Regions from separate parts of the Homo sapiens genome. Here region 1 is linked to region 2. A link means that fine-mapping ties the variant in region 2 to the expression of a gene that starts in the linked region. Tissue or cell type: whole blood. Region 2 holds a variant in brackets; the other region holds the start of a gene. All regions are shown on one strand. Distances are between the middles of the regions. Region 1 holds the start of TSPYL4 (TSPY like 4). Region 2 has its middle 14 kb from the start of TSPYL1.

The links. PIP is the estimated chance that this variant, and not a neighbour inherited with it, causes the effect.
Region 1: TSPYL4 starts here. The variant in region 2 is the best candidate, but not a certain one, in a credible set for the expression of TSPYL4 in whole blood (INTERVAL, PIP 0.53).

Annotation. Positions count from the first base shown.
Region 1 is chr6:116,251,679-116,256,080 of GRCh38, reverse strand. TSPYL4 (TSPY like 4) reads left to right here and starts at 2,006. Exons shown (of 1, transcript NM_021648.5): 1 at 2,006-4,402. The coding sequence starts at 2,073. The coding sequence ends at 3,317. It also overlaps a transcript of DSE not described here. RefSeq lists enhancers at 1,635-1,864, 2,275-2,434.
Region 2 is chr6:116,292,192-116,296,593 of GRCh38, reverse strand. It overlaps a transcript of DSE not described here. Among named protein-coding and RNA genes, the nearest start is that of TSPYL1, 14 kb to the right of the region's middle. The variant C/G (reference allele first, on the strand shown) is at 2,149.

The DNA of each region.
Region 1 (4,402 bases), 41 kb after region 2:
GTGCTCACTGGGTCTTTGTTTATAAAATCTAATGTATTTAAACTGCCTAGTACAATCTACATGAACTGAGTGTTAAAGAATGGCCAGGTGGTTATGAGTGAAAAATGATTCAGGTGACAGAACTAATACAGGCTAGAGATGGGAATGCTTTGAGTAGTAGAGATATAAATCTTTAAAAAACTTTGGCACACACAAAAAGAAAAAGAAGTTCACATGTAATTTTATACTTTTCTATAAATTTGTATAGTAGCAAACTTGTTTTTTCCTGCTGCATGGAAAAGTAACTTTCATTCAGTATTCCCTGCTTCTCTTCATCTTGACTCAGGTTATAATGGAAAAGTTACTCTTTCAACAGTGCAAAGGTTCTTTGGAAAAGAAACAGAGCAGTGTCAATAATTCAAAGTCACAAAGTCAATTATAGCACGCTGTTTATGTGTTTACAAAGACGATACCTCAATAGATTGATTTCACCCCACAAATAAAAAAAGAGCGTTTATTAAGACAAAGAGGAAAGAGGGAGAGAAAAATAATTGCTCTCTGCTGTGTGAATCTTGTTTGCATATTTCTTATGGGATAACTGATTAGCTGGCAGGCAGTAAAGAGGTCATTCTGGACACATTGTCCTTGGGTAGGCTGACTAGGCATACAAAAAATCCTGCAAGGCAGGCTGTTTCTCCGTATTGTCTGCCAGTGACCTTTCATCAGTACTTTATCTTAGTTGAACCAGAACTACACTCCTTCCCTCGCTAGAAGTCTCAGTATATATGATGTATTCCTCTAAGAGGAATCCTTTTTCTCTAAATCTGTACTTCTGAGCCTGTATTTGAAAGTGATCATAATCTGGGGGGCTTAAAATGGAGTTTCTTTTACAAAGAGTTATAATCATAACCGTTTATTTGAATATAAATTTGACATTAAACATAAATATGCAAAATTTAAATTTCCCTTTGGTCTTGCATTTTTCTAAGGATTAACACCATTATTCTCACACTCCAACAAACTAATATATTGTACTGATAATCACTATCAAATGAATTGTAAGAGCTAACTGACTCGAATAGACAATAACTAACCTTACTTTTAAAGTATTTTAAGAGACAGTAGCATAGATGCCTGCACATAGCTGATTATTGCTCCTGTGCTGCAGTGAATTACCACATGAACACATTTTGAAAAGATTTGTTAGCTTCATGTCCACAGGCATTATGAAGCAGGAACCACTTTTAGATTAAGATTGTAACCTGAGGAAAAGAACATATGCATCAGTTTAGAAATTAAAATCCCCTGAGATATTTCTTTCAGTAATGCTTAAAAGCCTAAATTTGTGCTCGTGTGCCAGTCACCTCTACGTAAGGAAAAACATTTTGCTACTCTTTGTTAAAAGTGAAGAGGAAATATTGTCCACTTGTTTTGTAGATGTTGGCCAAATTATATAAACTTTAAAATCTGTAAGACAAATTGAAATATTCCTTTATTATGTCTTGTTAGGATGAGAGAAGTTTGCCTTTCAGCTGCTCCTTAATTTTAAAAATAACAACACAGCAACACTTCTCTTTAAAATCAAACTCTGCTCATTTAAATTCTTTGGTAATAGCCATGAATCCACACCTTAAAAGAAGGAAGGCCTGTGAGTTCGTGAATCCACTTTCCTACTCAGGAGAAGCCCTATGAACTGACTTGAATAGACAGTAACTCACCTTAAAGTAAATATTTTCAGAAACAATAGGTTAGGTGCCTTAGAAATTCATTCAGAGGCTTAGAAATCCACATTAACACAGTTCTTACATGCTTGAGTCTGGTCTACATCCATTTACGTAAGTAAAACTCCCCTTCCAGACTGACGAAATTCTTTTTGTGACAAGAAGACAAAGGAATACGATGGATTGATAAGCGTAGTCAACCGCGCAGAGAGTTCTCGCGCGATGTTACGACGCTACCGCCCTGACATCACCAGTTGCCATGGTAGCACCGCCGAGAGTAAAGGAGGGGTGGTGCTAGACGTTTCGGGCAGAGCTCGGCCGCTGCGGAGGACAAGGAACTCTCCCTCTCCCACTAGTCTGACTTCTTCCAAAATGAGCGGCCTGGATGGGGGCAACAAGCTCCCTCTCGCCCAAACCGGCGGCCTGGCTGCTCCCGACCATGCCTCAGGAGATCCGGACCGAGACCAGTGCCAAGGGCTCCGTGAAGAAACCGAGGCGACACAGGTGATGGCGAACACAGGTGGGGGCAGCCTGGAGACCGTTGCGGAGGGGGGTGCATCCCAGGATCCTGTCGACTGTGGCCCCGCGCTCCGCGTCCCAGTTGCCGGGAGTCGCGGCGGTGCAGCGACCAAAGCCGGGCAGGAGGATGCTCCACCTTCTACGAAAGGTCTGGAAGCAGCCTCTGCCGCCGAGGCTGCTGACAGCAGCCAGAAAAATGGCTGTCAGCTTGGAGAGCCCCGTGGCCCTGCTGGGCAGAAGGCTCTAGAAGCCTGTGGCGCAGGGGGCTTGGGGTCTCAGATGATACCGGGGAAGAAGGCCAAGGAAGTGACGACTAAAAAACGCGCCATCTCGGCAGCAGTGGAAAAGGAGGGAGAAGCAGGGGCGGCGATGGAGGAAAAGAAGGTAGTGCAGAAGGAAAAAAAGGTGGCAGGAGGGGTGAAAGAGGAGACACGGCCCAGGGCCCCGAAGATCAATAACTGCATGGACTCACTGGAGGCCATCGATCAAGAGTTGTCAAACGTAAATGCCCAGGCTGACAGGGCCTTCCTTCAGCTTGAGCGCAAGTTTGGCCGCATGCGAAGGCTCCACATGCAGCGCAGAAGTTTCATTATCCAGAATATCCCAGGTTTCTGGGTTACTGCCTTTCGAAACCACCCCCAGCTGTCACCTATGATCAGTGGCCAAGATGAAGACATGCTGAGGTACATGATCAATTTGGAGGTGGAGGAGCTTAAACACCCCAGAGCAGGCTGCAAATTCAAGTTCATCTTTCAGGGCAACCCCTACTTCCGAAATGAGGGGCTTGTCAAGGAATATGAACGCAGATCCTCTGGCCGGGTGGTGTCTCTTTCCACTCCAATCCGCTGGCACCGAGGCCAAGACCCCCAGGCTCATATCCACAGAAACCGGGAAGGGAACACTATCCCTAGTTTCTTCAACTGGTTTTCAGACCACAGCCTTCTAGAATTCGACAGAATTGCAGAGATTATCAAAGGAGAACTGTGGCCCAATCCCCTACAATACTACCTGATGGGTGAAGGGCCCCGTAGAGGAATTCGAGGCCCACCAAGGCAGCCAGTGGAGAGCGCCAGATCCTTCAGGTTCCAGTCTGGCTAATCTCTGTCCTGTGAGAAGCTTCTGCACAAGTTTCCTTACCACCTCCTCTTGGACCTATGCTTGGCCAACAGCATGCAGTCTTCCATCTGCTTTCTCTTCATACTGTGGATTATCTTTTCCTTTGGTTCTAAATCTTCAGTAATCGGTTGCAAGATTGTTGGCTTACCTGCCTGTGCCATTCTTCCTCTGGGCCTTCATGCTTTTCTGCATTGTGTTAACATGTTTCAAGTGCATGGCCTTCTACGGCTTCTATGCCAAGCGTATGATACTATAGATATAGTGTACCATACTGCCTTTCTTTGCATGGCTTGGACCCTATCTGTGACCATGCTCTTCTCCCAATTTAAGTGGTTCTGTACCACAAAGAATCTTGATACATTTTCACAAATAACTGATTGGGCTTCATACTTTATGCTGGCTGTGTCCTGATACCCATGTACTTATGGTAAGCTATTTGGGTATTACCACTGCAAGACAAAACTGATATCTTAACCCGGCCATCAACCCAAATTGGACATTCCAGACTACCACCAACTGGATCCCAGCTGCCTTCCTGGGCTTGTGCCATCCACCCTACTGGTTATCTGATAGAACAAGCTGGTGGCTGATGGGTGACTGCTAGGCGTGACTGAGGTAATAGATGAAAAGTGTTCTATGTTATCACATTGGTTTTCCTGTACCTTTGGTTACTCTACGTCATGACCAGCTGCTGGTGAGTATGAAGCCTGTGCTATAGCCCACCCCTACTCACTCTCACCTTCTGGTTGAACTTTGCTTAGGCCACCATTGTCTGCCTCATCAGGAACTATCTGTAGACGTAGCTCCCAGGGAGCTCACAGCAACACCCCCTACCACCAGGATGGGCAGTAATATGTGACAGAGCCCAAAGCAAGGCTGGAACGCAGTCCCTTCCAGCTTAGTCTTTCTGACTCCTAGCCAACAAACCATCCTTAATGTGAGCAACTTCTTTAGGCATTTCCTCTTTTCCCCGCCTGCACCCACTCTGAACATGACAAAAGTTGCCAGAGTTGGGGCATTGAGGAAGAGATATTTCTGGAATGTGAGACTTGTTATGCCTCTGTCTC
Region 2 (4,402 bases):
GACACCTTCTCACCACTCAGGTCTAACTTAAATATCACCTCCACACAAAACCTTAGCCCCAGTCACACTTTTAAATTACTTTATTTAGAGCATTTCTTGGGTCCTTCAAATTATCTTTTTATGTTTTCATATTTATTATCTTTCTCCTCGCATCAAAATATAAACTCCTAATAGGCAGGGATTTAGCATGTCTTGTTCAACCCCACAGTCCACCCTTCATATCCAAGGGTTCTACATCTACAGATTTAACCAACCATGAATTGAAAATATTTCAAGAAAATACGTAACAGTAAACAATAATACAAATTAAAAAATAATACAGTATAACATTGTTTACATATCATTTACATTGTATTAGATATGATGAATAATGTAGAGATGATTTGAAGTATAGGGTAGGATGTGTGTAGGTTATACACAAATACTACATCATTTTCTATCAAGGACTTCAGCATCCATGGATTTTGGTATCTGAGGGGGTACTGGAACCAATTCCCCTGGATACCAAGGGACAGCTATATATCCCCAGTATGTAGAATGTCACCAGGCACATTTTAGTGATTTCAGAAATATTTATTTAATGAAAAAATAGGTTTCCAAGATTGATGAGGTTGAATGAAAAGTGCTGTCTTTCATATTGTAAATATAATTCCAATATGCCTAGTTTATTATTGGTTTATGATAATCATAAAATGATGGTTTGCTAAGCAAAGGCAAAACTGATGAGATTATGGAAAAATTTTCCTCAGTGGAGTCCCAATTAATGAAGTTCTACTTTCAAAGAGGCTTCTATGATAATGTTATGCTTATTTTTGGAATGGAAATAAAATGACATCTTGCAATTTTCTTTTTCCCCTTAAATAAACCTACTTAAACTATAAATTAAGACTGTTCTCTTCCAGGGTTTAGTGATGCCTTGAAAAATAACTGAAACTAACAGTGTCAAAAAACATATCAGTCAATTTCCAGGAGACACATTATTGCTTTCTGAAAATCTAGACAGCTCTACTTTAAATATTTAAATTAAGGCTGTTTTATTTTATTTTCTGTATTGTGGTTTCTGCCTTGTCATTTCACATGTGGGCTAGTATAGTTGTTGGATCACATCTCATCTTACATAAAGACCTTGAAATTAAAAAATGTTTGGAAGGAAATATTTTAAATAGGAAATTTTAAATAGGAAAAAAAATCAATGGATGTAGTCAGGGTTTAATAGGATGACCACAGCAGAACATAATACTCCACAGCGAGTCTCAAAGTCCTTCAAATATAAGCCAAGCCACATTCAAGCCTTCCTTCCTCATCCACTCTCCCGCTCTCTCCCCACAACCCTCCACACCTTTGCCTAGGCTGTTCCCTGAACCTATCTCCTCCCATCTTCTCCTCTCCCACCTTTCTTCTGCCTTCAAGTCCTAGCACAAGTGTCCTTTCTTCTTCTAGGAAGCTCCTCCAACCGCCACAGCAATCAGTAGGTCTTTTTTTCTGTGTTCAGCTTGTACTTGGTAGAATATACCTAATATTCCTGTTTTCACACTGCAGTATGATTTATTTCCAAATCACCCTCCACCCCACCGTGGGCAGTCTCTCGAGGGCATGAACAGTGTCTTTTATCGTTAAATCCTCATCACTTATCATACTTACTATAGGAAGTGCTCAGTAAGGAGTTGGTGAGTAGTCTACTCATTTAACCACCTTTAGGGCTTTGAGATGGGGTGTTCTGCATATATCATTTTGCTTTCCACTGGTAATTGGTAATAAAGATGGGGTGAGAGGAAATTGGAGGAGAGACTTGTTATTCACATCTCCTCTTTTTCCTTATGTTCTTTCTGGCTTCGGGATGGGACCAGAGACTAGATGGTGAAACTCTGGGCTGAGGTTCTGATATGCTAAACCACTGGTAATGCCATGATTCAGGTACCCACTTGCAGGACTTTCCTGACATCTTCTCACTTCCCTTTACAAATACTTCCCCTATCTACCTTCATTCCAAGAGTTCTTGTGCCCACAAGCTTTAAGAACCATATTTATGGCTTTCCTATCTTCCCTGACCCTTCTATTAACCTGGCTTGACCTCAGAATTCAATCCAAGAAAGTTGGTTTACAGATTATTTAACTTACTTAAACTAATGTATGAATATAGGAGCATTT[C/G]TATTTTACAATGAATCTGTTACTGTCAATACAATTCTGATTACTAAACTACGTTTAACTTGAAAACTGTTTTTTGCTAATTCCAGCACCCTGCTTCTAAGTGTTCCATATAAAATCATTTTTGGCCAGGCACAGTGGCTCACTCCTATAATCCCAACACTTTGGGAGGCTGAACCAAAAGGATCCCTTGAGCCCAGGAGTTCAAGACCAGCCTGGGCAGCATAGCAAGACCTCATCTCTACAAAAAATTAAAAAATTAACTGGCATGGTGGCACATGCCTGTAGTCCTAGCTACTTGGGAAGCTGAGGTGGGAGGATTGCTTGAGCCCAGGAGGTCGAGGCTGCAGAGAACTGTGATCATGCCACTGCACTCCAGCCTGGGTGACAGAGTGAGACCTTGTCTCAAAAATAGAAAATAAAATAATAAATTTTTCTAAAAATAGACATATTTATTAACTATTAGCTAGTTACTAATTGTATATATATTTTAAAAACATACTTTAGACAAAAGAAATATTACCAAATAGATCACCAAGGTCACTTCTAGCTCTTTTTATTTCTTTTTGAGGCAACGTCTCATTCTGTCACCCAGGCTGGAGTGCAGTGGCGTGATCATAGCTCACTGCAGCCTTGATCTCCCTGGCTCAGGTGATCCTCCCAGTTCAGCCTCCAGACACCACCATGCCTGACTAATTTTTCTATTGTTAGTACAGCCAAAGTCTCGCTATGTTTCCTAGGCTGATCTTGAACTCCTGAGCTCAAGCAATCTTGTTGCCTTTGTCTCCGAAAGTGTTAAGATTATAGATGTGAGCTACCATGTCTGGCCTCTAGCTCATTTTAAAAGCAACCAATACTTCATAATAAAGAGGTACAACCCAGTAAATTAAGTTTTTGACTGAATTTCAGCTATTTTAAATCACTCTTCAAACAAATATTGGCCTCATCTTCCAGAATTAAGAAAAACAAACCATCATGGTGAAACCCTGTCTCTCCCAAAAGTACAAAAATTAGCTGGGCATGGTGGAGCACACCTGTAGTCCCAATTACTTGGGAGTCTGAGGCAGGAGAATAGCTTGAACCTGGGAGGCAGAGGTTGTAGTGAGCTGAGATCACGCCACTGCACTCGAGTCTGGTGACAGAGCAAGACTCCGTGTCAAAAAAAAAAAAGAAAAAAAGAAAAGGAAAAACCTTTAATTCACCTTGAACTCAATATCACATCTGAGCAAATGTTTTTGCTTCAGCTTTAAATACAAGCCCAATAACTTATTAAAGCAAATGTGTTCGTTTATGTTATTTTCTTCTTTGAATTCTGTAGTTAATTATATAAAGTTAAATTATCTCATCATTGTATGAGAGGGTTTTCTTTAATGTTTGTCTGAAAAATATTTTAAATCCAATGTGTAAAAGTCATTCCTAATGTCACCACCTCTCTTTAAAATTCTAAGAAGCAATAAGCTAAAGTCCCCTTCCCATCCTCATCCCCCAGAGATCACCACTGTTGGCAACTGGGTACACATCCTTTCTTAATATTTCTTGCATTTATATAGATACAAGGGTGTCAGCTAATATTTATTAAAATATAATTAGCATATACTTATTGGTCTGCAATGTTCTTTTACATCTTTCTAATTAACATGGATGCTTTTCCAGGTCACTACTTTGGATCCAATTTATTCCTTTTAAAGGTTACGTAATATTCAGTTGTATAAACATGCCATAATTTATCCAACCTTTCTTCTACTTACTGACATTCAGTTTGTTTTCTTTTTTTTTGTTTGTTTGCTTCCTCAACACTTCAGTGTAATAATCAGATCCTTACTCTGCTCCCAACAATGCTGCTCCCTACAAACATTCTTCCCTCAACCCTGCATCTCCTTGAACTTGTCATCCAGTCTTTCCCCTTTTCTATACTGACAATTATGAAAGAACTGGCCTCACACACTATCTATATGTTCATTTATCATTCATTTTTTCAACTCTGCAATTTTTCTGTCTTGCTACTTTTCTGAAATTGCTCTCACTAAAGACACCCATGCTGTATAGCTGCCGCCCAATTCGGAAACTTTTCTTCCCAGTCTTCATCTCACTCAATATGGCTGCATCCCTTGAACCTTAGCTTCCTGAAGTCCATTCTTCCCTTGCATACTGAAACAACACTCTTCTGGTTCTTTCCCTACCTCTAATGGCTATTTCTCAGTTTCCTCTACTTGTGCCACCTCATCTGTTTCTTTCACGTCAGTGTTCCTCAGAGCTC